Homo sapiens: one gene and its partners. The protein of the gene in region 3 interacts with the protein of the main gene of each other region in a pairwise test. Each region holds a gene or a part of one and is shown on either strand. Other genes may lie near its edges.

What was found.
Region 1: the proteins of BACE2 (region 3) and LARP4B interact in binary tests that used the Homo sapiens proteins (3 or more experiments, as listed by UniProt).
Region 2: the proteins of BACE2 (region 3) and TMTC1 interact in binary tests that used the Homo sapiens proteins (3 or more experiments, as listed by UniProt).
Region 4: the proteins of BACE2 (region 3) and TPM3 interact in binary tests that used the Homo sapiens proteins (3 or more experiments, as listed by UniProt).

What each region holds. Positions count from the first base shown.
Region 1 is NC_000010.11:809,681-816,707, forward strand, and holds part of LARP4B (la-related protein 4B), read right to left. Parts: intron 5,391-7,027; coding exon 5,266-5,390; intron 5,171-5,265; coding exon 5,062-5,170; coding exon of another isoform or gene 4,957-5,061; intron 3,577-4,956; coding exon of another isoform or gene 3,534-3,576; coding exon 3,246-3,533; 3' UTR 1-3,245. UniProt on the Homo sapiens protein: Stimulates mRNA translation.
Region 2 is NC_000012.12:29,514,928-29,521,954, forward strand, and holds part of TMTC1 (protein O-mannosyl-transferase TMTC1), read right to left. Parts: intron 6,137-7,027; exon of another isoform or gene 6,006-6,136; intron 5,794-6,005; coding exon 5,691-5,793; intron 4,894-5,690; exon of another isoform or gene 4,804-4,893; intron 3,681-4,803; coding exon 3,545-3,680; intron 2,645-3,544; coding exon 2,500-2,644; intron 1,560-2,499; coding exon 1,422-1,559; intron 1-1,421. UniProt on the Homo sapiens protein: Transfers mannosyl residues to the hydroxyl group of serine or threonine residues.
Region 3 is NC_000021.9:41,269,158-41,276,184, reverse strand, and holds part of BACE2 (beta-secretase 2 isoform A preproprotein), read right to left. Parts: intron 815-7,027; coding exon 561-814; 3' UTR 1-560. UniProt on the Homo sapiens protein: Responsible for the proteolytic processing of the amyloid precursor protein (APP).
Region 4 is NC_000001.11:154,168,078-154,175,104, forward strand, and holds part of TPM3 (tropomyosin alpha-3 chain), read right to left. Parts: intron 5,125-7,027; coding exon 5,007-5,124; intron 4,902-5,006; coding exon 4,831-4,901; intron 4,028-4,830; coding exon of another isoform or gene 3,952-4,027; intron 3,412-3,951; coding exon 3,336-3,411; intron 2,635-3,335; coding exon 2,572-2,634; intron 2,393-2,571; coding exon 2,323-2,392; intron 1,307-2,322; coding exon 1,228-1,306; intron 1-1,227. UniProt on the Homo sapiens protein: Binds to actin filaments in muscle and non-muscle cells. Plays a central role, in association with the troponin complex, in the calcium dependent regulation of vertebrate striated muscle contraction.

The DNA of each region.
Region 1 (7,027 bases), on a different chromosome or scaffold from region 3:
CAAAAACGAAACCCTCGAGGAGCGACCACATGACCCCCGCGCTGTGAGCTGCTGGCGGCCAGCGCCCTCGCCTCGATTGTCTGCAGCCCTGTAGTGGGCCGCGAGGCACGCAAGCCGCAACTACAGCTCGCCAGCGGGGCACACAGACAGGCATGCACCACCACTACCCGTCGCCCGGATACACTGAACTGGTTTTGAAGCCTGAACTGCAGAGATCCTAATATAGCAACGCAGGACGTTTACGGCCACCCGCCAGTGACAGCCGGTGATGTGATGACAGGAGGGCCTGGGTGAAAATGTCAAGACACTCACTCTCAGAGAACGACGACTCCACTTGAAATTCATGTCTGGTGAAACGGGACCAGGTTTTTATTCTTCTATTTCAAAATGATAAGCATCATCACACGATTTTACAAGTTAAAATGCCATTTGTCACTGCTGCATCTCTGATTCTATAACCTGAGATACTGCTGGGGGTAAAGGAGGGTGTTAACTTAAAAAAAAAAAAAGTATGAAAGCCACTCTCATCGCTGTATGTGACACAGCACAGTTGGCATGGACCGCCACAGCTTCCTATTATGATAACTCTCATTTTCTTCTGAGCAGAAACTCTTGAAGTAGTATCAGGTTTTTTCAGACATTATATAGCAATCTGTATTTCACCTTTAATTAAAAAGGATGCTATAAAAATCACCTCCGAGCAACGTTTCAGTTCTTGATGCAGAAGACTGCTGCTGGCTAGGCAGTAACTACAGTGTATTGACCGGAGGGCAGCAGAGCCCTCCAGTGGCGACTGGCTAATGCACGCGCTGCCCTCCTCATGCAGCTGTTGAGCTCCCACTTCGGTCGACAAAGTGAAGGACTAAGCTGGCTCTAACCACACACACACACTGCGCTGCAATGCTCACACCTTGGGGGAAAGGACTTCTCATTATTAAAAACCAAGGACTCACTGGCGGACGGGCAGGCCTTGTGTTTTGGGAATGGCTGATGGCGCCCTGGCCCTTCCGTAGCGAAGATGCAGCTCGTAGGCCCAGGCCTCGAGGTTGCCTCCCAGCTTTCTGAGTATTGAGAGTTTGGGTTTCACAGATCAATTATTTCTGATTTTTTTTTTTTTTTTGGTCAGTGAACTGACAACTACAAAAAAAAATCCCCATGTTCTTTAAAATGCATTTGAAAAACACTAGCCCTGTGGCTATTTCTCTGTATTTGAATAATGGCAACTGCTTTAAAGGAAATGGTCAAATAGGCATGTTTTCCTCTGGCAGGGTCAATCATGCTTAGCTGCAGGTGATTTAAATTAGATTACTAGTCACCTTCACTTACGATCCTGCCAGTTTTTGCTCTCTATATACTTTAAAACTCTTTCACATTAGATATGATTAGTATGCATTTACATACATTTTAAAAGAGTATGAAAACATCTGGAGGCTTTTAATAAGACTTTCCAATTCCCTTTTGCAGCAAAGAGGCAGAATCAGTTCAACACACCGATGTAAGAGAAAAAAGAAAATCTCAACAAATCAAAATAATATTCAAACCACAACATTTAGTTTATCTACATCCCGCTCAACAGCAACATTTATAATATATCAATAATCTGTATCAGAATTTTCTCTGTAGGGTACCTTTTTCATATGTTCTGATTATTTACAACTGTACAAGCGAAGCACACTCCAAGTGCACGTATTTAATACAGTATTGACTATTTGCATTTACAGGATTTTCCAACATTCTGAAAAAAGATCAACTGTTGAAGATCTTTAAGGTATATTACAAAAACTACTACTAGCTCTTGTACTACAGTATGCTTACTCAGTAAAACTAGCGACAGGAGATCCACGCAGTAACTGAGTAACTCTGACCCACTCACGCCAACCCAGGGCCGGGCTCCATGGACTCTAAGCTGTCTTATACAAAAGTTAAGGCAAAGTCATTTTCAAGTTTAAATAAAATTCAAGTCTTTAAATATTGGATGGAAATAATTTTTTCTTAAAAAAAACCCTCAGTCTTGTTAAATAACATTTTGTGGAATAAAGTGTATGGTTACATTTAGCAGGAAATATTCTTATTTTAATGTTTGCTGCTTAGAATAAAGAAAAATTTGAGGCATTTTAAAACAAAATAATTTATATTTAACTTTATTATAAACTTGCTAACTTTAGTGCATCCTTGTTCTTCAGAAGTGCAGCACTTCTGGAAGTGAATCAATGAGGCCCTCGTCTTGGAGGTAAAAGAGCAGGAACTTTATCCTCCACCAGCCAAAGAGGGGGAAAAACCACAAACACCATTCTCTCACGATTACATAACTCTTAAATCCATGTGCTGATGCAGAGGTACAGGGAGATGTCCACACGGAGCTGAAGATGTGGACTCTCTCCAACCAGAGTGCTGGGGAACACGGACAGAAATGTGCACAGAGCAGGGCCGGGGCCATCAGCTCACAGGGGTCAAAACAACATCATGGTACAACTTCTGGTAACATGTCAGTGGGCAACAAAGTGTATGTTTTCATGTAGGTTCTATTCACAATGTGCTTTGAATTTATATTACATAATAGCCACTTGAAACTGGAGTGAGAAGCTGGTTACTTGCTTGCAGTGCATCAGAACCAAGGTTTCTGGGGTGGCCCCTGCAGGTTCACTCCGCCCAGGAGATCAAAAAGGATGCGCTCTCTACATTCTTAAATGCCACAGTCCCCTACCAACGGCTTAGGTGGAAGCACAGCTCCCACATCAGCACTGATGCCCTGGCGCGGCCAGCACTGCCTCTACGAGGCCACACCTGCCTCTGCCAAGGCCACTGGCCCTCATTCATCTGCGGGGACGTTCTAGAGATATGCACTTACAGACCAGTTACTTAAAAAAAAAAAAAAAAAGCAGAGTTCCCTTAATTTAGAAAAACTCACTATATATAGCTTGCATTCAGAGCCACATGGAGGCTTAATAAAAAATACCAATTTGTTAGGATAAATGCTTTTTCTATCTTGGAAAAAAAAATCAGACTTATGCATCACCTCCAGTTAAGCACCAACCTAAAATAAGGTTTGTATTAATTAAATCCTGAAAAATCGATTTTTTTTCAAGAGGGGGAGAATCCAACTCACAGAAGAAAACCAACTTGAGGATCCCACAGGCCTCAGACACTGCAAGCTCCTAACCAGCGGCTCGCCCTCGCACTGAGTGGGAGAGTGTCTCGTTTGTGGTTAACACAGCGCTCTGCGACCCCTCCCAGACGTACGGTTTTCACTGAGGAGACTTGGGGGGAGTGCTCTGCTCTCGGCTGAGACGCTTCCCCATGGCCGAGGGCGAGGGCCGGCCCCCCGCCGGCCGCCTCTGGTCTCTGGGGGCTCCAGGTGTGGACTTGAGGGCTGGGGGCTCCCGGTATCTCTCTGCGGGCTCTGCCAGCTTCTTTTCCTCCTTCCCACAACCAACAGTGTTTGGCTTTTGTTCTTTTTGGGGTTGCAATGGGGAAGAAGGAGGCTCTTTACTCGTTCTCTGACAAATCTCTGCGTAGCTGGGCTTTCGCAATTCCTGGAAACAGACAATCCTGGGTTACCTGTGTGAAATGGTGTCTCTAGGGACAAGACAGGAAATCAAGTTCACTTAAGATAAAAGAGTTTTCAACTGTAACTAAGTTTCCATCTTCACTAGTGTTTTTAACTTTTAAAAAGTTCATAAAATCTAATGATTTAGTTTCCCCTGCAGCAGAACACTCCCTCTGTGCTACTGTAGTAATGGATAAAATTAGAAAAGGCATGACGAAGAAGAGTGCTGACTCAACACCATCCCTACCCAGCCCTATGCCTGCTTGGGCAATGCGGAAGCCTAGGAAGAGTCCGGATGCTGCCCACACTGGCTCCGCCAGCTCAGGACAACAGAAGGGTGTCCCAGGTGCCCACGGTGGGCAATGGACCCTCACACGGTACTCAACCCTGAAAGGCAAACTCCAAAAACAGTCTTTAAATAAAAATGTTTTGCACATTTCAAACTACAAAGGACTGGAAATATCTAAGAATGATGAAGACAGCTAAAATCTTCAAGAAATGTGTAATAGGGTTTTCAGGTAAGTGGAAGCATAAAGACTAAATAACAGAAAAGTAAAATATTTCCCTTAATAACTTTTTTTTTTTTTTTTTTGAGACACAGTCTCACTCTGTCGCACAGGCTGGAGTGCAGCAGTGCAATCTCAGCTCACTGCAACCTCTGCCTTCCGGGTTCAAGTGATTCTCCTGCCTCAGCCTCCTGAGTAGCTGGGACTACAGGTGCCCACCACCAAACCCAGCTAATTTTTTGTATTTTCAGTAGAGACAGGGTTTCACCATGTTGTTCAGGACTGTCTGGATCTCCTGACCGCATGATCTGCCTACCTCGGCCTCCCAAAGTGCTGGGATTACAGGCGTGAGCCACAGCACCTGGCCTCTTTTATTATTATTATTATTTATTATTAAAATTATTAATTTTAACCTATAAAAAATCCTTTTTTAGACTCAGCCCAGGGGACAGTAAGGGATTAAACTCCCAAATTCAAGGAAAAGGCTCCCCCAAGATCAAACTACAGAGGCCACAACTCAGAGTAAGAGAGGCCACAGTTCACCCAGTAGGGAAAACAGCAGAAAGGAAGTCGCTGGGGTTCAGGCCTGCTGGGCCCACAGGGGTTGGAGGCTGGTGGGGCCACCATCTTGCTCTTCCTGTCTCTTCATCAGACACACGATGCGCGCGCACGCACGCAAACATACACACACGCGCGAAATGCTGAAATGATCCTAAAGTCTATGGAGAAACAGGAGCTGGGGTCTTGTTACTACTCAAGAAACCTCTATTGACCAACACTGAAATAAAAGGACTACATGGTGGTCTGAGAAAGAACTAGAGTAGTTAGTGGAAAATTATTAGCAAATATTAAAGGTATTTTGTACAGAAAACACAACACAGACAGACGCAAATAAAAACCCACCAAATTAGATGTGATTAAAAAACGAGCAGGTGCAGGAGTGCGCAGCGTCTGTTCACACCAGAGCCTCGCGGCTGTCGTGCAGGAAGGCAGGCACGAGGTACGTACCGTGGCGGCTCCGTTCACCTGCACCGATTTACACGCGGTCGCAGTGAGGGCGGAAGGAAGTCTGTCCACACTGTGGGTTTCCCTCTGTTTCTCCGCCACCTTGGGATCACTGTAAAAATGCCACCCGATATTTGAATCTCATGCAACATCACAGGCCATTCAAGTCAGTCAACACCAAGGCGCTGGAAGAACACCAATACTCACTCGGGTAAATGAGCTGGGGAGGGGGATCGCTCGTACGTTGCTGATACAGCACAAGAAGCCGGCACCGAGGGCTCTCTGGAGACCACTACAGGAAGGGTGTTCACGCTTGCGTCTGCACTGAGGGTCTGAAACAGGGTCAAGAGTGTTCATCAGAGTCCTGCCGGCACTAAGCGGAGCTGGTACCAGTGCCCGTTCACCCCACCCGTGAACAGCCTTGGGAGAGCAGCACAAGGACATAGGGGAAGAGGGTCTTCTCCAGCAAAAATGTCACAGAGCCCAGGACTATCCTCTGCCCCACAGATCGCCCACCCTTCTCTTTCTCGGCAAATGCCCCACTGTTCTTACATCACAGGCCCTTATCTCCTCTCCCGCAATGATGATCTACAAGCTTATTTCTTAACTGAACAGGCATCAAACACATCTCACCCACCTGGCACTTTGGGCCCAGCACGGCACGGCACAACACCACATGCATATCTGCTGAGTGTCGAATCCTAACACAGTCCAACACAACTCATTCACACCGCTGAGAAAAAACAATCGGCGCCTCCACACCCATATAAATGTGAGCTCCCAGCCCTCCCTGAATTCACAACCCCAGGAAGCAGGTGTGCGAATGCCCCCATCTCAACAGGTGAGGAAACTGAGGCCCAATACCTCTAAGTTAATTTGCCCAAGGCCAGGAAGCAAAGGACGGAGTGAAACTTACTCCCTCCTTACTCCAGCCAGCGACCCCTGTGCAGGGGCTATTTCATGTGTGCTTGATCTTATACATATGGCATGTGATGATACACTTGTCATGCAACTTAAAAAAGGCAGGAGGGCAGGTGCTCTTTACACTTCTGCCCTTAGATGAAGGCTGACGACAGACCTAGAGCCCTTCCAGCTGGAGAACCAGAATCCGCTGCAATTCCTGCGCTCGACCAGCAGGAATCCAGCTTGGTGGAAACAAGAGGGCAAAGGACTCCTTTTGTAAAAGCTCATTTTAAATTCAGGGTAGGGGCCGGGCACGGTGGCTCACGCCTATAATCCCCGCATTTTGGGAGGCTGAGGTGGACGAATCACCTGAGGTCAGGGGTTTGAGGCCAGCCTGGCCAACATGGTGAAACCCCATCTCTACTAATAATACAAAAATTAGCCGGGTGTGGTGGTGCATGCCTGTAGTCCCAGCTACTCGGTAGGCCGAGGCAGGAGAATCACTGGAACCCAGGAGGCGGAGGTTGCAGGGAGCCAAGGTCGTGCCACTGCATTCCAGCCTGGGTGACAGAGCAAGACTCTATCTTAAATAAACAAATTAACTAATTAATTCAGGATATGTGCAGTCCCAATGCAAATGAAATGCAGATCCACAACTGCAGGTCATGAAGCAAGTCAGAGTGACCATCACGAGCTCCATGTCAACAGGGGAAGGGCTGAACCCCATCATTTCTGGAGCCTCCACCCCACTTTGAAACCCAAGGGCCACGCTGTTGACTCAAGAAGCTCCCAAGAAGCAGCAATGGAGCCCACTACACCTGGGTGGTGGCATAAGGCTCAGGGTCAGGCTTTTCAAAGAAGCAATTCTTTCTTCAAGAGAAACCTTACACAAGACTCAAACTGGGCACAGCAGGAGCTGCTGTTTCTGAAGCAGGGTTGGAGACCTGCCTCTTCTCCTCCACTCAATACCAACGGGAGTAGGCTACAGTTGGAAAACTAGAATTCATGATCTTTAAACTGCATTTCTTCTCAAGGCACTAATACCTTAGAAATGACGGTGTGGAAA
Region 2 (7,027 bases), on a different chromosome or scaffold from region 3:
CTCTTGAGCCCTGGGAGGTGGACCTTGTAGTGAGGTGAGATCATGCCACTGCACTCCAGCCTGGGCAACAGAGGAAGACCTTGTCTCAAATATATATACATTCTTCATTATCTTTGATTTTCTCACTGGGAATTAGTGGCCCTGACAAAATAACTTTCTTACACTCCAGTTTTCCCACGTATCGATGAGTGGCAATAAAATATCCTTGATTACTTTACAGGGAGGTGGTGTGATACAGTTGAAAGAAAACAAGATTTGGCATCAGACGTTTTCCCTGACCATGTGTTCATCTGGACCACCCCACCAGCCCCTCTCAGGTCCTAGTGACCATTCTGCCCCCAGCACCCACTGACCCCACTGCAGCCAAAGATCCCTTCAAAGCAAATATCTGATCATGTTCCTCCTCTCCACAAAAACCCAAAGCTTCTCCCATGGTAAGGAACAAAACCCTTGGCCTGGCCCCAAGGAGTCTCCTCCCAGCAGCCTGTGCTTGCGTTCCTACGGTGCTCCTGCTCCCTCACTCCCATTCCTCAGAGAGGCCCCTCACTGCTGCCACAGGGCTTTGCATGTGCGTTTCCCTGCCCAGAATCCTCCTTGCTTCTTCCTCTGCCTAACAACTCTTATTCTTCATCCAGCCCTCACCTCCACATCACTTTACAGGGAGACCTGGCCTCCCAGACTCATCGGGTCCCCTGATTATATGCTCTTTGGGAGAGGTAGCGCTTCATGATATTCCTGGGCACAGCTATCACTCTACATTTGTTTTGTGAGTACCTGTTTAATCTCCTTCTCTATGGGTTAGCTCCATGAAGACAAGGGCAGTGACTTTTTTTTTTTTTTTTCATACCACTTTATTTCTGATGCCTACTACAGTGGCCAGGACATAGTGGGCCTTCAACAATTACTTCATTGAGTCAGTTTATAAATTTACTGATTATGTGACTTTTAAAATGGAGATAATAACAGTTGTGACATTGGGTCACCCTGTGTTTCCTTCTTATATATTGTTTCATGTAATCTTCCTATATATTCCTCTTCTATATTGTTTTATGTAATCCTCATAACAACCCTGTAAAGCATGGTTGTTATGAGGATTACATAAAACAATATATAAGAAGGAAAATACAAAATAATAAAGCATATAAATGTTGGTCTTGATCTTTATAGACTTAGCTGAAAACAAACTAAGACAATACCACATAAAAGCTTTACACCAAAGATAAGCCAAGAAAAATATTATTACAAGGGGACATCTTAGGTGTTAAGGGGATATCTGTGAAAAGTTTCCAAGAGATAGGATATGCTGACGGATAAGATTTAAGATTTCCCAGGCTTATAAACACGCAAACTGGAGAATCACTTAGGTGCACCCCATGTTTAACCTATGAATCCAAAGAACTCTAAACAATGTCCTTCTTTACCTTGTCGTGGTTCTCCTGCTTGCTATAGATGGCTGACAAGAGGCGATAGCATTCAAGGCATCCGGTCTCCTCTGACACAATGTGATTGGTCATCTTTTCAGCTTCTTTTGTCTGACCCATCACGGCCAAAACCTGAGCCTACAAAACCACATGGACCTTGGCTTAGCAGAGACTTCATTACCTTATCAAATAAAGCATCCCTGAATAGAAGCATTCAGAACGCACTCCTGACAAACATGCTCAGCATCAATTTAGTGACTCATAGAGAAGGCTGAATCACCAGTTTTCAGGTTTTGACTTTTTGCTGTTTGTTTCTTTATTTAGTTTTGTGCATGCATTTGTGAGTGAGTGGCAGAAACACTAAATATATCCAGTGAAATGGCTTGTGGCTTTTAAAAAAGGTTGACCAAATAAGTCAGAAGAGAAAGAATTTCCTCTGATTTCATCAGAACAGTGTGTTTACAGCAAGATAACAAATTTGATTTATTGCACATCTAAGGAAAAGGATGAGTGAAGTTCCAAACACTGAAATAAAAATTTTGTTGGTATGAATGTTAATTTTCCTGAGTCTAATAAATACACTGTGGTTATGTTAGAGAATGTCCTTCTTAGAAACTATTTGCAAAGGTATTTAGAGATAAAGGGGAATGATATATACAACTAATTCCCACATGGTTCAGGAAAAAAATAACACACACTAATAATAGGTATATACAAACATACATATCTAAATATGCACACATATACATGTAGGTACATATACATCTACATATGCATACACAATGGAGTGATAAATGAATCAAAATGTTACAAATCATTGGAGCTGGATGAAAGGGTATATGTAAATTTTTTACTATTCTTGCAACACTTTCATAAGTTTGAAGTTATTTCAAAACAAAAATGCAGTATTTTTGGTGTCCATGTCTTTAGAGAATGGCTCTAACATTAGCTGTATGAATATTCATACAGTGGATATATTACGGCATTCCAGCTCCAGTTTTGAGGCGTGAGGACTACAGCTCTCTCTATGGCTGCCTGTGCTTAGGTTGCCAGCTTCATTTTCTTTCATCCTACTCACCAGTGCCAAGCGGAGCTCCCTCTGAGAAGGCTGAAGTGCTGCAGCTTCCTGGTAAATCTGCAAAGCCTCTTCGTATCGGCCAGTGTTGTAATACAGTGCTCCCAAAGGTGACAATATCTCAGCTTTGTGTGCCACCTGCAGGGCGCTGAGTTTGGAGAAAATCTAAATGACATTTCTCTTCTAATAGGTACATTTCCAAATGTCTAGGCTTAGATTTAGGGAAGACGGTCCATGGTTTGAACCTCTGCTCCAATACGGTCTTTGTTTTTATATCAATAACAAGGTTTTTGGCTTTTTCTTTTTTTTTGAGACAGAGTCTCACTCTGTCACCCAGGCTGGAGTGCAGTGGCACAATCTTGGCTCATGCAACCTCCACCTCCCAGGTTCAAGTGATTCTCCTGCCTCAGCCTCCTGAGTAGCAGGGATTACAGGTGCCCGCCATCATGCCCGGCTAATTTTTGTACTTTTAGTAGAGACGAGGTTTCACCATGTTGGCCAAGTTGGTCTTGAACATCTGACCTCAGGTGATTCGACCATCTTGGCCTCCCAAAGTGCTGGGATTACAGGCATGAGCCACCGCACCTGGCCAAGAACAAGGTTTTTACAAAATGATCATGATGCCATAGTTGGAACGTAAGAATGTCTTATTGACCTATCAATATGGAAACTGAGCCCCAAGGGTCTTTCTCATTAATTATGATGAATTTGTTCTCATGTGTGCATAGTTTTTCATGTATCCTCATTTTTTAAATTGCTGTTTATGATTGGGGTTGCAATCCATGGCTTCAGAAAACAACAAACTGACTAAAGTGGGAATTAAATTTCAACCTTGGTTCAGCACTATAGTCTAACCAGCAAGCCAAAGTCATGAATTATGATCCCATTTATATTGTGGTTGCTTTCTTTGGAGATAAAAATTTGTATCACCTGAATTGGCAAAATTTGCTAGTATTCTGAGAGCACACCTATTCTGATTAACTAAGAAGCTGATGAGTGATTGCTGAGGTTCCTGGGCAACTTATAAAGAAAAGAAAGGGAACTTTACCGCTTGTACCATTCTTCAGCCATGCTGTTCTCTCCCAGTGACCTGTAGAGTCTTCCCAAGTTCACCATGGCCACGTGATGACTGGGGCTAAGTTTGATGGCCTGCTGGTAATGGGCCACTGCCTTTTCTGGTAAGCCTGTAACCAGTGACAGGTTGGTAAGAGCAGAACATGCCTTTTTATAAAAGACATGAACATTTCACTTTCTCTTCTGACTTATAATTCTTTCTCATTATTACAGAGTTATACCAAAATTATTCAATATGCAAATTAGCTTGCATTTCAGCTTCTCATCCTGGCCATTGCCTAACTTTGAACAATTTCACTGTTCATTCATACTTCCAAAAAAATTAACAAAAAAGCAGTAAAAACTAAAACCTATTGTTTTAATTATATATATTATTTTAGTCGAAATTTTTCTGGTCATCGCTCTTGCTAATAGGATGCCTTCAGATTATTAGTGATTGTTATTTATCCAAGATATAACTGGCTCTCATTATATAAAAAATAGAACAGGCTACTGTAGAAATAAAACTGTCCAGAAGCAATTTCTAAGGGTCTGTCTCAATGAACTATACTTCAACATAGCAATTGAAGCATTACTTTAAATAACACATATCAGCTCTATAGTGAAAATCTCTTTTAAAATCATGCACTTTCATTTGAATGGCACTTAATTAATAAGACTTACAACATAATAATGCCACCATGCACTTGTCCAATGCATTATATATTTTTAAATACTTACATTTGTATGGTTTTTGCAGGTATTTTTTTATACAATTTAGCTGCCTTTTGATACTGTTTAGCTGTTTATCAGGATTTAAGAGATATTTAAAAAACCACACACAAAAATTTTCCACTTTACAGATATAGACACTAAAGTGCAAAGATATTCAACAGACTTGATAAAGATCCCAAGGCAAGTGAGAGTAAGGCCAGAAGCAGAATGAAGGCCCTCTACTCTGATAGGTTTCTTCAAAGTAGCTTCCTGGTGAAACTATATTCAGTAACTACACTTTAGAACACTGTGAAATTCTAAATAGAATGGAATGTCTATTATCTACACAGAAATCTTTTCAAGCGTATCTGTTTGAATACAAGTTTGACTAGGAGGTCCCTAGGAGCCTCTGTCTCTGGAGGCAGAGGCTCAATGTCATAGGGTGGTCACAGAGTTATCATTTTTAGGGGTGTGGTGGGGTGGGACTGTTGTTGAAGTAAAAGGAGGAGGGTTAGACCTGCCCAACTAGAGGTTTCTTCTAGTTTTTATATTTTTAAGACAGTTTATTATTATGTGGCCAATGAACCAGCAGGTGGCACTACACAACAATTTTACACAGGCAAAAATAAGGTAAGTTTCTTAGATGTATCAGAATGTAAATTTTATATTCTGTAAAACAAGAGAGCTCCAAATATCCTTGAAAATAAAACCCCTTTAAGCATTTCATATTGAAAAACTAATTAAACTAAATTTTGCTGCAGGGCAGCTAGTCTAGTAATCAACAAGAACAAAGTGGTGCTTTGGCCTTACATTTAAATATAATTTCATTACTTACATTGCATGCCAACAGTACAGAGGCACTACATAAGTCATAAAGAAAAGAGAATTCATGCCCAGTAATGTTTTGCATTAAGTAAGATAAAGTAAGTGTATTTTATATAGCACCTGTCATATAAGAGCATTGTATCAATTTTAATAATGCAGTTTCTAATGTACATCAAGGAAGGAATGATGGAACAATTCTGGAGGCTTTTAAAAAATATGTTATAGAAAAGTATTTACCATCTGCCAGTAACTGCTTTCAGAGGCAGGTTTTGCATCATTGTAGAGAAACATTTCATCATCATGGATTTATAAATATATATAAATAATATTCAAAGAAGATTGGGACTTATTAAATCATAAGGCTACTTCCTGTCCCCTGGGGAGTTTTCCATAGAGAAATGAGTATGAGAATGGCCAGATTTTACTGAATCGAGCTTGAAGATCTAGAGAAATGACAGCCCCGAGGTATAATGACTGTCAATAGTGTGAGCTTCCTGCCAAGCCCAGTGAATTTTACTTCTGAGGATTATTTGCCTTCCATTTTGCTTGATAAATTGTATTAGCTAATCTCAGCAGTACAGTTTCTCTTTAATTTCACTTACCAGTATCAACTAAGAAAACCCCATAGTTGTTGTGTAAATCTGAGCTGTCTGGACAGTTCTTTATTCCAGTTTGGTATATTTCTTCAGCTTCTTTAAACCGCTCCTTTAAAAAGAAAGAAACAAACAAAATAAGTGAGAAAGCTTTCTAAAACCAACAATAACTGAATATTAGGAGCAGGAAAAGCAAAAAAAAAATAAATCTTACTAAGCACCTAATATACAACAGGCTACTGAGATAAGGCACTATGAACTTTGTTTGAATTAAAGGCAATATTAACTGTGTACAAAATACCCAAAATTCATATCTGTATTTAGTTCCCTTAGGGCGAAAAAGATGATGTTTTCTCAAATGGGACCTTTGGAAGGATATGGACCTGTACAACATGCACGCCTACCGGGGAAAAAGGACTGAAAATAGTTGTTCGAATAGGATGCCCTTCACCCCGGTGACTCTCCATACGAAAACGGGGGATGCAAAAATGGTGGAATGTTTTCAGAGGTGGCAATGTGGTTGGGAGGCAGGGCAGTCTGGGGAATTTGTTTTCTAGCTGCATTTGGATAGATGACTCTCTTTTTATCTATATACTGTACTGCTTGTTTTGGGAAGTTTTTGAGGGAAGTAGAGAGGGGAGGCAGATGCAGATGTTGGGGAGGGCTCTGCCCTATCCTTTCATTACTTGAAGTATGTCTACAGCCCACCAGACTGGTGGCTACTTCCCATACTCAGTCCATGCTTTCCACCTCTGAGCTGCTCCCTCCAACAGGTTTATATGTCCCCTCAAGGGTGTACCTCCAACCTGTGTGGCAAGGTTCAGGTCGATCACCACATCTCTCATTCTAGGGCTCCAATTCTAATTGCCCTTGTGTTCTCTTTGTCTAAAGATTCACTTTAGCAAACTTTAGTAATTCTGAGTTACTTTTTAGGTACATTTTTCTTTTTCTTTCTTTCTTTTTTTTTTTTTTTTTGAGACAGAGAGTCTCACTTTGTCGCCTTGGCTGGAGTGCAATGGGGCGATCTCGGCTCACTGCAACTCCTGCCTCCTGGGCTCCAGTGATCCTCCCACCTCAGCTCCCTGAGTAGCTGGGATTACAGGCATGTGCCACCATGCCCAGCTAATTTTTGTATTTTTAGTAGAGATGGGGTTTCCCCATGTTGGCCAGGCTGGTCTCAAACTCCTGGCCTCAAGTGATCCGCCCGTCTTGGCCTACCAAAGTGCTGGGATTACAGGCATGAACCACTGCACTTGGCCCTTTTAGGCATATTTTTCACAACCATTAGAGACTGTTATGTCACACTTACTTTTACTATACAGAAGGTGAAATTAATTAATCAAAGG
Region 3 (7,027 bases):
AGGGGCCTGTGGCTCTGGTTCCAGGTCTCAAGGGTACAGCTTGGTTACATCCCCAGGCCCCAGGCTGATTCTCCTGCCATCATACTGCAAGCCTTCCTGTACCACTTTGACCCAGGTTGAGGTCTGGCGGAAAATAACCTCAAAGGCAATTAATACAAAAAGCTTCCTGTAAGCTAAGAGGGGTTATCAACTATATGTACTTATTTTTCCAGAGATTGAAGAGAGAAGAGAACGAGCCAAGGCTTGGTTTTGTTTTATGTTGGTGGCACATGTAGACACTTTGGCATAACGAACCCCATAGAGCCTGCAGCCCAATCCACTCTGTTTTGGTTTAGAATGAAGTTTTTTTTTTAATTATTTTTCTTGGAAGTAGGGAGGATTTGAAAGCTTGAAAATCAAGAATCAAAAGACAGTGAATCTAGAAGGCATCTGGGAGCAGAACAGAGATTGAAGACGGGTGGGCACAGGAGAAAGCGCCACCATCGATCCCGGCTGCTGCCCTGGAAATGTGATTTTCTTAATAGCTGAGTTCATGGTTGCTTGAGGTCAGGCCTGGCTATTCATTTCCAGCGATGTCTGACCAGAGAGGACTCATCATTGACGACCTCAGGGTCACGGGGGCGACGCTGACACCGGAACGGCAGCAGCAGCAGGACGATTAAGACAAGGAGGATGGCTCCACAGACGCTCATGAGCGCATAGGACACAATCCACAAAATGGGCTCGCTCAAAGACTGAGCGGGGACACAGTTGCTGGCTACATCCTCTGTTGAGAAAGGCCCGGAAATTTCAGACACTGCAGCACCTGCAATTTCTGGGGAGACAGAAAGGGAAAATCCACAGCTGTGAAATGAGCGGTCCACCTCTCACATTGGACACAGACAGAACCCCTTGGTTTATTAAACCACAGTTAAAGTCCACTGAGGTCCCAGTGGCTTAGACAGCTCAGGAAGCACTGAGTGGGGTCACGGCTCAGCGTGCCTTTGGGGGTCCAGTCCCTGCAAACTGGAACGACGGCATGTTTTAAGGTGTGTGGGTACCGAGCCTAGGTGTGGAGGGGAACTGCAGCAGGGCACATATGGAAGCACCCTGTGCTTCATGGAATGCCAGCGACACTGCGGTACTACACAGGTGAGAGTGCAGGTCAGCACCTGGTCATGACAGCTGTGTGGGTTGTGCTTCCTCAGTGGAGATGAAAAAAGAGGAGAAAGAGAAGGAGAATTTACCGCAGAAAGCTCAGCTGGACCTGCCTACGTCATGGGGAATTTTCCCCAGTGGAGTCAACCTGAGTTCACTCCCTACCATGGATTCTACAACAGATAGGGACCTCATATCAACCTGACTCATAGTCTTAGTGGGTTGTGAGACCTCCGGGGGTCAGGCTGGCTTGAGAGACCCTCCCTGCCCCACTCTTATCCTAGGTCTCATCAACAGCCAGGAGCAGTAAGTGAATGCAACACCTAATTCATGACATCACTGGTGACAAAGAGAAACAGTTAAAATTCACCCGGTGACTTCTGCTAGAGACTCTTGAATAACTTCAAACCAAGAAGGAAGTTGAGATGATTTCTTAAAGCCGGTTTGTGGATTATCTGTAGACTTCCTTTGCCTACACTAGGCTTCTCTGCCCCTTTCAGGAATATGGGATCTTAAGCTTTACTTGCAATACGGAAAAGAAATAGGCCTCATTACCCATTTTTCCTATATTTAATCACAGAAATGAATATTTTGGCACCAGAAAATAACACTGCTAAGAATTTGATTTTTCTGTAACTAAAGCCTCAAGATCTTCAGAGCTGCCAAATAATACCCTTTTTGACTGAGGAAAGAAAAAGTCAAAATAACAATGCGATAATGACCTGAAAAGAATGGTTTTAAAATCAGAGGAAAACAGGCTTGATTACTTTGCAAAGTGACTGCATTTTCTTGCTAATGTGGATTCTGTCATAATATGGCTTTCCTAAGTGCACTGAAAAAGAAAGGCAATGAACAAGAGCCTGCCAACACCGAGAACAGAGGGATGCACCCTGCAGTCAATCTATACTCCCATTTCCTGGTTTGTAGATAATGATCTTCTTGCTGTGTCTTTACATGGTGGAAGAGACAAGGGAGCTCTCTTGGACTGTCTTTAATAATGGGCAGTAATTCCATTTACAAAGAAAAGCTCTGCCCTCGTGACCTAATCACCTTCCAAAGGCCCCAACTCCAAATATCATCACCTTGGAGATTAGGTTTCTGTTGCGGGAAGTCAGGGACCCCGAACGGAGGGACTGGCCAAAGCCATGGCAGAAGAACATAAATTGTGAAGATTTCAGACATTTATTAGTTCCTTAAATTAGTACTTTTATAATTTCTTACGCCTGTCTTTACTGCAATCTCTGAACATAAATTGTGAAGATTTCATGGACATTTATCACTTCCCCAATCAATACTCTTGTGATTTCCTATGCTGTCTTTACTTTAATCTCTTAATCCCATCATCTTCCTAAGCTGAGAATGTATGCCACCTCAGGACCCTGTGATGATTGTGTTAACTGCACAAATTGTTTAAACAATATGAAATCTGGGCACCTTGAGAAAAGAACAGGCTAACAGCAATGTTCAGGGAACAAAGGAGATAACCATTAGGTCTGGCTGCCTGAGAGCCGGGCGGAACAGAGCCATATTTCTCTTCTTTCAAAAGCAAATAGGAGAAATATCGCTGAATTATTTTTCTCAGCAGGAACAGCCCTGAGAAAAAGAATGTGTTCCTAGGGGTAGGTCCCTGAAATGGCTGCTCTGGCAATGTCTGTCTTTTACGGTTGCCGATAAGGGATGAAATAAGCCCCGGTCTCCCATAGCGCTCCCAGGCCTATCAGGACAAGGAAATTTCCGCCTAATAAATTTTGGTCAGACCAGTTGTCTGCTCTCAAACCCTGTCTCCTGATAAGATGTTATCAATGACAATGCGTGCCCAAAGCTTCATTAGCAATTTTGATTTCGCCCTGGTCCTGTGATCTTGCCCTGCCTCCATTTGCCTTGTAATATTTTATTACCTTGTGAAGTATGTGATCTCTGTGACCCACACCCTATTCGTACACTCCCTCCCCTTTGAAAATCACTAATAAAAACTTGCTGGTTTTGCAGCTCAGGGGGCATCACGAACCTGCCGACATGTGATGTCTTCCCTGGACACCCAGCTTTAAAATTTCTCTCTTTTGTACTCTTTCCCTTTATTTCTCAGACCGGCTGACACTTAAGGAAATAGAAAAGAACCTACGTGAAATAATGTTGAATTATCGGGGGCAGGTTCCCCCGATAGGTTTCAACATAAGAATTTTGGCAGGACATAAACATTGATTCTACAGCACTAATTATGCAAAGAAGCAGGAAAACACAGTTCATAATAGGGAGCAAAATCAATCAATTGGAACTTAGTAAGAAATGGCACAGATGATAGAATTAGCAGGCAGGATATCAAGATATTTATTATAACTGTATTCTACTCAGGATGCCAGAGAAAATGTTAAACATGTTAAATAGAGACACGGAAGACATTAAAGATCTAAATCAAATTTTTAGTGATAAAAATTATAATATGTGAGATGAAAAATATACGGGATGGTTGTAAGAGCAGATTATACACTGCAGAAAAACAGACTAATGAATTTAAAAAAAACCAAAACAATAGAAATGAAGCACAGAGAAAAAACTGAAAAAAAAGAGAGAGAGAGAACATCAGTAAACTGTGGACAATATCAAGCTGCTAAATCATGTAATCAGAGTACTCAAAAGGAAGAAGGGATTGTGAGGCAAAAAATATTTGAAAAAACCAAAAATTTTCCAAATTTTATGAAACTATAAACCCACAGACCCAAGAAGCCCAAAGGACCCCAAACACAAGAAACATGACATAGATTATAATAGCGCACTGCTGAAAACCAGTGATAAAGAGAAAATTTCCTAAAAGCAAGGAGAGAGAAAAAAGAAATATTATGTACAAATGAATAATAATAAGGATTACAGATGATTTCATGTTGGAAGCAATGCAAACTAGAAGACAATAGAGTAACATCTTTAAAGTACTGGGGGTAGAAGAAGCCCTGTCAACCGAGAACTCTATACCCAGCAAAAATATCTTAAAAATGAAGAAGAAATAAAAATATTTTCAGTCATACACAAGCTGAGAGAACACATCACAGATTTTCACTACAGAAAGTTCTTCAAGCAGAAGAAAAAGGACATCAGAAGGAAACTTGAATCTACACAAAAGAATGATGAACACCAGAAGCGGGAAGTATATAGTAGTTATAAAATCTTTACTTTTAATTTTAAATATTTACAAAGATAATCAATTAAATCAAAAATTATAACAATGTGCTGGGTGGCTTATAATATAGGCATAGGTAAAATGGATGACAATAGCACAAAGGACCGAAGGCAAGAAATGGAAGTCTATTGTTGGAAGGCTCTTAGACTATATGAAGTGGTAGACTGTGGTCAGTTAAAAAATTTACACTACATATTCTAAAGCAACCACTAAAATTTCACGATATAGAGTTATAGCTAATAAACTAGCCAAGGAGATATAAAGAAATAGAAAATAATCCAAAAGAAGGCAGCAAAAAAGGAAAAAAGGGAAAAAATGTAACAAATGAGACAAAAAGAAAAATAGTTTTCTTTGTTGTGTTACTGGTTAAACACAGACATATCAATCATACATTAAATATAAATAGTCTAAACCAGCATTTGGCAAACTTTTTCCGTAAAGGGCCAGATAGTAAATATGTTAAGCTTTTTAGGTTAGCTTCTTTCTGATTTTTTCAACCCTTTAAAAATGTAAAAACTATTCTTACCTCACAGGCCATACAGAAACAAGCCACATGCTGGATTCAGCCTATAGACTGTTGTTTGTGGATCTCTGGCCTAAACATCACAACTAAAAAACAGAGACTGCTAAATTAGATAAAAAGCAAGATCCAAGTATATTCTCCCTACAGGAAACTCACTTTTAATGTTAAGACTCAAAATGTTAAAACTAAACAGATGGAAAAAAACTATCATATTAATGCTTATCAAAAGAAATCCAGAGTGGCTATATTATTAGACAGAATAGATACAGATCAAAAAAATTACTAGAAGTAAATATAGTAGTTTCATAATGATAAACTGTTTCCTTCATAAATAGGACATAAAAATCCTAATGTTTTTTTACCTAATAACAGTGTTTCAAAATACATAAAACAAGATTGATGAAAATGCAAAGAGAAATAGACAAATCCACAAATATAGTCAGAGATTCCAATATCCGTTTCTCAATAATAGAGCAAGTAGACAGAAAATAAGTTATGATATAGAATACCTAAACAACACTATTAACTAACTTGATCTAACTATTATAAACTAATCCACCCATAATAGCAGAATATACATTGTTTTCAAGAGCACAAGAAATATTTACTGTGATAGACTATATTCTGGACAATGAAATAAGTTTCAATAAATTTCAAAAGATTCAATTCATAAAAACTATATTCCCTGCCCACACTGAGGTTATATTAGAATAACAGAAAGCTTCTGGAAAAATCCCTAATTATTTGGAAACTAAATAACACATTTGTGGCCAGGTGTGGTGGTGGCTCATGCCTATAATCCCAGCACTTTAGGCGACGGTGGTAGGAGGATCACTTGAGGCCAGGAGATGGAGGCTGCAATGAACTATGCTCACGCTACTGTACTCTAGTCTGGTGACAGAGCAAGACCCCATCTCCATTATATATATATAAAATCTTTGTGTCCTGGGGTTAGGCGAAAAATTTCTTAGCTATAGTACCCAAAAGCACAATTTGTAAAAGGAAAAAAAATGGATTTTATCAAAATTAAGTAAGAACTGCTCCTCTTTAATAGAAAATATTAACAGACTAAAAAGACTTGGCAAAAATATTTGAAAGCCAAATTTCTGATAAAGGACTTGTATTCTTCATATATAAATAACTCTGAGGACTCAATGAGAAAACAAACAACCCTATACAAAAATGGGCAAGAACATTTGAAAAGACATTTCATTTAAAAAGATGCATGAATGGCAAAAAAGTACATGAAAAGATATTCAGGATTATTAGTCATTAGGGAAATGCAAATTAAAGCCACGATGAGACCGCTAAATATTAATACCTATTAAAATGAAAATACTGACCATACCAAATGTTGGTGAGGATGTTTAACAACTGGAACTTTCATACACTGTTGGCAGGAATGTGACATGATAAAGCCAACTTTGAAAATGAGTTTGGCAGCTTTTTAAGTAGTAAAACATACATGTTATGTAACTCAACGATTCTACTCCTAGGTGTTTATCCAGGAGAAATAAAAAACAAAATATATGTCCAAGGACTTGCATGCTATTGTTGATAGCAGCTTTATTTATAATTGCCAAAAAACCCAAAACTTGGCAACAATCCAAAAGTTCATCAACAGGTGTATGGGGATAAAGAAACTATAATGCCTAATTGATCTGCAATAAAAATGAACTTTTGAACATGAAACATTATAGATGAACCTCAAAATAATTTTATTGTGTGAAAGCAGTCAGACAAAATGGAATACATACTGTATGATTTCATTTATATAAAATTCTAACAAATACAAACTAGTCTACAGTGACAGAAGGCACGTCAGTGGTTTCCTGGGAATGGCATGGGGTCCACAGGACCTGGGAGGCAGGGAAAACAGCTCAGTGCATATGATCACTACCTTGTTTGTGGTGATGGTTTCAAGGTGCGCACACATATAACACTTATCAAACTGTATCCTTTCAACATGAACTGTTTATTTTACACCAATTATATCCCAACAAAGCTGTTTCAAAAAGTCAAAAGAATAAGATAGTCAAAGCATGTCAAAGAATAGCACATCTGTTATAATCTCATTGAGATTAGAAAAGAAAAACCGAGGCCAGGCTCGGTGGCTCATGCCTGTAATCCCAGCACTTTGGGAGGCCGAGGCAGGTAGATAACCTGAGGTCAGGAGTTGAAGACCAGCTTGACCA
Region 4 (7,027 bases), on a different chromosome or scaffold from region 3:
AAATGTGGCTTCTTTTCAGGGTTAGTGGGAAAGATACAAAGAGGCAGATTAGCATCAAGGATCAGGGATCCACAGCAAACAGATGAAGCCCCAACAACTCTTTTTGGTGCTGTTTATCACTTGGCTTGCTTCTGGGACTCAGCTCAATTCTTAGGTGAATTTGGTATTTCCCATCTTGGGTAGTTCCCTGAACTTTAATATCAGGGAACCAATTAAACACACCCAGGAGGCCTGAATTTTGTCTTAATGTGTCAGGGCCCAAGTTACTGGCTCTGTGGGCCCTATTTCCTTAGTTGTATGGATTCTACCTCTAGCAGTATCCCTTCTGAGAAGACTAAATTTGAGAAGCAAATAGAAAAATCACAGTATAATGAAGAAACTATGAATACAAAATATAAAAATTACAAGTCAGTCAGGGTTCTCCTTCTGATCCAAGATTAATTGCCTCCAGAGCTTTTTTTTCTTAGACAGTCTTGCTCTTCAACCCAGACTGGAGTGCAGTGGCATTATCTCGGCTCACTGCAACCTCCATCTCCTGGTTTCAAGTGATTCTCCTGCCTTAGCCTCCCGAGTAGTTGGGATTATAGACATGCGCCACCAAGCCCAACTAATTTTTTAAATATTTTTTAGTAGAGACAGGGTTTTGCCATGTTGGCCAGGCTGGTCTTGAACTCCTGGCCTCGAGTCATCCGCCCACCTCAGCCTCCCAAAGTGCTGGGATCACAGGTGTGAGCCACTACGCCCAGCCTTTAATGTTTTTCTTTTTTTTTTTTTTTGAGATGGGGTCTCACTCTGTTGCCCAGGCTGAAATGCAGTGGCACATCTTGGCTCACTGTAACCTCTGCCTCCCAGATTCAAGCGATTCTCCTGGCTCAGCCTCCTGAGTAGCTAGGATTACAGGTGCACTGCCACCATGCCTGGCTACTTTTTGTATTTTTAGTAGAGACGGGGTTTCACCATGTTGGCCAGGCTGGTCTCCAACTCCTGACCTCACGTGATCCACCTGCCTCGGCCTCCCAAAGTGCTGGGATTACAGGCGTGAGCCACCGCGCCCGGCCATGCCTCCAAAGCTTTTGCCAAACAAATAACCAGCACCAATGTTTCAAAGATAAGGGTGGAGATTCTAGTTTCCAAAGGATAAAACCAAAGCACACCACTATGCATAGCTTGTACCCCCATCCACCCACAAGCCAAGATCCCAGCCCCACTCTACTGTCAGATAGTTACATAGAGGTCATGTCATTGAGGGCGTGGTCCAGCTCCTCGCTAATGGCCTTGTACTTCAGTTTCTGGGCATAGAGCTCATCTGGACAGGCACAGGAACCACAGGGAGGAATGAGGGGACAGAGTGAAGAGTTTCAGAAGCAGATGAAGAGAGGGAATCATTAGAAATTAGGAAAGTGTGACTGTGGGTCTAATACCACAGTTAGGAAAATATCTACTCTGGCAACCATGACTGGACATTTTCAGATCTACTCTCTCCTATGACCAACTTCCTTTCTTGATACTCCAAATCGACTGCAGCAAGGGCTGAGAACCTGGGCACAGTCATAACTAGAAATTCCTATTACCAAAAGCACTCAAGAGGATACCACTCCCATCCAGGTACCCAATTCCTAGCAGTGATAACACTTAATTGAACAAAAATAGCAAAGGGAGAGAGTATATATCCATATTCAGACACTTCTCTGCCTACAAAATGTGAACCTATTAGTGGCCCCTCTGCTCCACAGGCTGCCCCTGCAACTCTGCCAAGAGAGTGTACCAAAGGAGCATACATCAGAGTTCTCAAAGCAAAGAGTACGTTCCCTTGTCAGGGTGGATGGCAGTTACCAACTTGCAGGGACAGAAAGTATTTAGAAAGCTCCTGACATTGGTCAATGTTCAGATATGGTTATTCCACAACTTCATTTATTGGATAAATACCCGACAACTTGAGTGGCAAAAAGAACTGTGGAAAGTAGCCATGAAATGACATACATCTTGCCCTTCTGAAATCATGGCTTCCATTTAAACCCACAGACTAAAGGTTTAAGACTAATAAATTGGAGGTAAATGCAGCCATTATCATTCTCCTCAAAAGGGAAGGGTACAAATTGCAGACTATTTGGTAAAGTCTTCTTAAAGGAAAAGATTAAATTTAAAAAACCAATTCTAGAGTTTGACCCACTTTGCCTAGCTGTGGCATAGGACAGTGCACATGATATTAATACATGCCAAGTCACTACCAACTTCCTTTGGTGTACAGAAAAAGAGATTAATGGTTAATGGGCAGTCTTCCTCTATATTTCTCTATTTCAATCCCTACTCCAGGTTCCATACCTTCCAGGTCATCAATTGTCTTTTCCAGCTTGGCTACCGATCTCTCAGCAAACTCAGCACGGGTCTCTGCCTGGGGGAAATATGAAATTAGTCAGAACCAGAGATGAAGACAAAGAAGAACAATCTCTATTTCTTCCACCTTCTACTTCTGGACCTTTCAGAACCCAAACCAGCCAGTTTAAATCCATATTAATGCCTTATATACCTCTAAATGTTTTGGGTTCTGCCCTATAAATCCCCTCAGCTCACCTCCTTGAGTTTATCAGTAAGAATCTTGATTTCTTCCTCATATTTATCTTCTTTTTGAGAGTACTGTAAGATAAGTAGATTAAAAATTTCAGAGTAGAAATTAGTCACACAGGCAATACCCCCCTCCCTACATTTAACTTACATTGAATATCCTCTTGCACTAAATGTGCTGAATGGTCCAAGAGTAAGAGCAAGGCCTGGCTCTGGACAATAGGTCCTTGAAATTCAGAAATCTATGTCTTTAGAGCCATGAGATCCTCAGGTTAAAATTCTCCATGACTTTTTAAGATGGATCTAAGCTTTGATATTATTCAGATCAACCCAAGGAGGTGTTTTTCCTTTCCCCTGCTTGATGAGCAAGAGTAGTAGCACCCCAAGGTCACATGACTGAAACACACCCACATGATGGCAAAGTGAAGTCATCTGTCTTGATTGCTCATTAGGTCTCAGAGCTGATTCTGTCTGTTGCCCCCATCTGTCTGCTAGAAAGCCTGTTAGGGCCCTTGATTATTGCTTTTCAGCACAGCAGTATCAGCCTAAGGAGCACATGACTCCAGTAACCTGAGACCAAGAAGTTATTTTAATTAAAGCAATCAAAGTGCACAGAAAATAGCATTAAACCCAGAACCTGAATACATGGTAAGGAGGTAGGAAGAGGACACGCCTCACTGGATTATATATGGAATGCGTGTCTCCAGTCTTTCATCAAGGGCAGGGCTGGGCCCAGGCCCCAAAGCCTGTCACTTTCACAAACCAGCCCCTACCTTCTCCGCCTGAGCCTCAAGAGACTTGAGGTTGTTGGTGACATTCTTCAGCTCCTCCTCCAGCTCAGAACACTTACTGTGAATATTTTAAATACCACAGGAGAGGAAAAGGGAAAAGGAAGAGAATAAAAAAAGGGAGAGAGACACATAGACGTGAATTGAACCTATATGTAGAGAGAGTTGGAAGGCATACTGGGGAAGAGATGTTCCCAAGTAACCTGAGCAAGCATCAACCCTCCTCCCTCTACCATAGAACGTGTCAGGAGCTAGACCTTCCTGGGCTCAAAAATGTTTGAATACTAATAAAGCACTTGAGAGAAATCCACTACCAGGAACAAGTCATAACTGCTACCTGGGGTGGAGGTGGGAACAAATGCCCAACCCAAACAGTCCCCCAAATCACCCAAAGGAAGGAGACCCTGTGGAGAGGCAGTGAAGCAACTAGGAAAGAAGAGATGAAAGATGCCAAGTAAGTGGAAAAGAATGGAGCATTCCATGAAGAGATGAGACAGCACTCAACAAAATCAAGTGGAGGGGAGGCAGCTGCAAAACAAAAACAAAACAAAACAAAACCACACCACATATATAACCTTGCTGTGGGCTTAATGGTTAGTACCTTTTCTTCAGCAGCACTCAGACACTTCAGGTTCTGGTCCATCAGTCTAATCTGCTCATCCATCTCTCGGCAACGGCTGTTAGTGATAGTCACGGGGATGGCACAAGCCAGGTTGTGGGGAGGGAGAAAGGTCAAAAAGGAACACAGCAAGAAAACAAGCAGCAAAACGAAAAAAAAAAATTCAAAAAATGGGAAGAGAACACCACCATGGTCATGATATGTTATGTCTGGCAGACGGGAATGTAAGAGGGAAGCACAAATACATATGCATTCAGCACTGACTTTGTTAATCAAGGCCCAGAAGGTACCGACGGGAGAGCAGTTAATATCTACCCTTGCCCTAAGGTTCCCTAGCAGATTGGCAAAGTGGCCAAAACAGACACCAGATTTTTTTTTTAAATTTATTTGTTTTAGGGACAGGGTCTCCCTATGACGCCCAGGCTGGCCTCCAACTCCTGGGTTCAAGCAACCTTCCTGCCTTGGCATACTAAGTAGCTGGGACTACAGGTTTGAGCCACCACACCCAGCCAGACACTAGATCTTAAATCAGGATAGCCACTTTGATGTCTTCCACCCCAGGTGGAAGGACCCAGTAGGATCTTCCAATTAACTGTTCACCATGTATTAGTCCTTATTTGCTCTCAATTTGTAAACCCTACCAACAAAAAATAAGAAAGCCTCTTTTGTCACTTGTCACTAGTCAGGAGAATAAGGAAGCCTAAAACCATTCTTGGGCCTAAAAAAGCACTATAGATGACTCCCATTCCCTAGGCCCTGTTTAACAAGGTTGAAGGAATGCTAATTTATTCATATTAGTGCCCAAGCCAAAGGGGAAGGGATAAATTGGTAATGACAAGATTTGGGGAGCTAGATACTCACGACTCTGCCAGCTCAGCTCGTTCCTCTGTGCGTTCCAAGTCTCCTTCAATGATCACCAACTTACGAGCCACCTACAGGAAAAGATCCCAGTATAGCTTAGTGAAGCAAAGGAGCCATTTACCGCATTATGCTTTGTAAAAGGCCGATACGAGAGGGACTAACAGAAGGTCACTTACCTCTTCATACTTCCTATCTGCCTCTTCTGCAATGTGCTTAGCTTCTTTGAGTTGGATTTCCTGGAGTTCCATCTTTTCTTCATCTTTTAAGGCCCGGTTTTCAATAACCTTCATACCTCTGCCAGAAATAGGACAAAAGCAATACTGACACCCTGAGGAGTGTGTCGTCAGCTCCACTCCAAGGGTCTCAGAACTGTACTTTTAAAAGCCCACTCCTCTCTGTCTGCCCCTCAAATGGAAATTCCATGTTACTACTCCCACACCTTAGTTTAATTATTTCATTTAAAATTTTTTGTTATGGCTGGGCACAGTGGCTCACGCCTATAACCCCAGCACTTTGGGAGGCTGAGGCGGGCAGATCACCTGAGGTCGGGAGTTCAAGACCAGCCTGACCAACATGGAGAAACCCCGTCTCTACTAAAAATACAAAATTAGCTGGGCGTAGTGGCACATGCCTGTAATTCCAGCTACTTGGGAGGCTCAGGCAGGAGAATCACTTGAACTCAGTAGGTGGAGGTTGCGGTGAGCCGAGATCGAGCCATTGCACTCCAGCCTGGGCAATAAGAGCGAAACTCCGTCTCAAAAAAAAAAAAAAAACTTTTTGTTATAAAGGTAATACATCCTGGCCAAGCGCAGTGGCTCATGCCTGTAATCCCAGTACTTTGAGAGGTCAAGTCAGGTGGATCACTTGAGGTCAGGAGTTCGAGACCAGCTGGCAAACATGGTGAAACCCTGTCCCTACTAAAAATACAAAAATTAGCCAGGTGTGGTGGCAAGCACCTGTAATCCCATCTACTGAGGCAAGATAATCACTTGAACCCGGGAGGCAGAGGTTGCAGTAAGCCAAGATCGCACTGCTGCACTCCAGCCTGGGCGACAGAGTGAGACACCGTCTCCTCCACCACCCCCAAAAAAACTTATTAAGAAATTAAATACTAAAATATTAAATAAAAATATGGATATATACAGCTGGGCGTGGTGGCTCACGCCTGTAATCCCAGCACTTTGGGAGGCCGAAGCCGGCAGATCACCTGAGGTCAGGAGTTTGAGACCAGCCTGGTCAACATGGCAAAACCCTGTCTGTACTAGAAATACAAAAATTAGTCAGGCGTGGTGGCAGGCGCCTGTAATCCCAGCTACTTGAGGGAAGCTGAAGCATGAGAATGGCTTGAACCCGGGAGGTGGAGGTTGCAGTGAGCCGAGATTGTGCCACTGCACTCCAGCCTAGGGGATAGAGTGAGACTCTGTCTCAAAAAAATAAATAAATATTATTTAAATATATGTGTATATATATATATATATATATATATATATATATATATATACACACAAAAATCCCATCCCAGCTTCCCCAAAGTAATAATATACTAGACGGTTCTGCAACTTGTTTTCCACACTCTTTTTTTTCCCCCCGGTATTCAGCATGCAGCTATCCTCACTTTCTTTCTTTTTTTTTTTTTGAGACCAAAAAAAAGAGGGAGGCTCACTGCAACCTCCGCCTCTTGGGTTCCAGTGCTTCTCGTGCCTTAGCCTCCTGAGTAGCTGGGATTACAGGCGCGCCCCACCACGCCTGGCTAATTTTTGTACTTTTACCAGAGACTGGATTTTGCTGTGTTGGCTGGGGTGGTCTTGAACTCCTGGCCTCAAGTGATCGTCCACCTCAGGCTCCCAAAGTGCTGGGATTACAGGTGTGAGCCACTGCGCCCGGCCCTCACTTTCTATAATTTGCATGCTACTCTAATAGTATACACATAGCTGCCTCTTTCATTTTCACAGCTGCACAGTAGTAACGTACCCTTAGAAAGGCACTATTTATTCTGAAAACCCTTAGTTGTCAAGCACCTCTGTTCTAGTTTAACTCACATGTGGCAAGGAGACAACTGGCTATTTTCAAAAACATGAGTTATAATTTGTTTCAAGGGCCATGGTTCTCAACCCTAGGAACACATTAAAATTAGCTGGGGAAGGCCGGGCGCAGTGGCTCACGCCTGTAATCCCAGCACACTGGGAGGCCGAGGCGG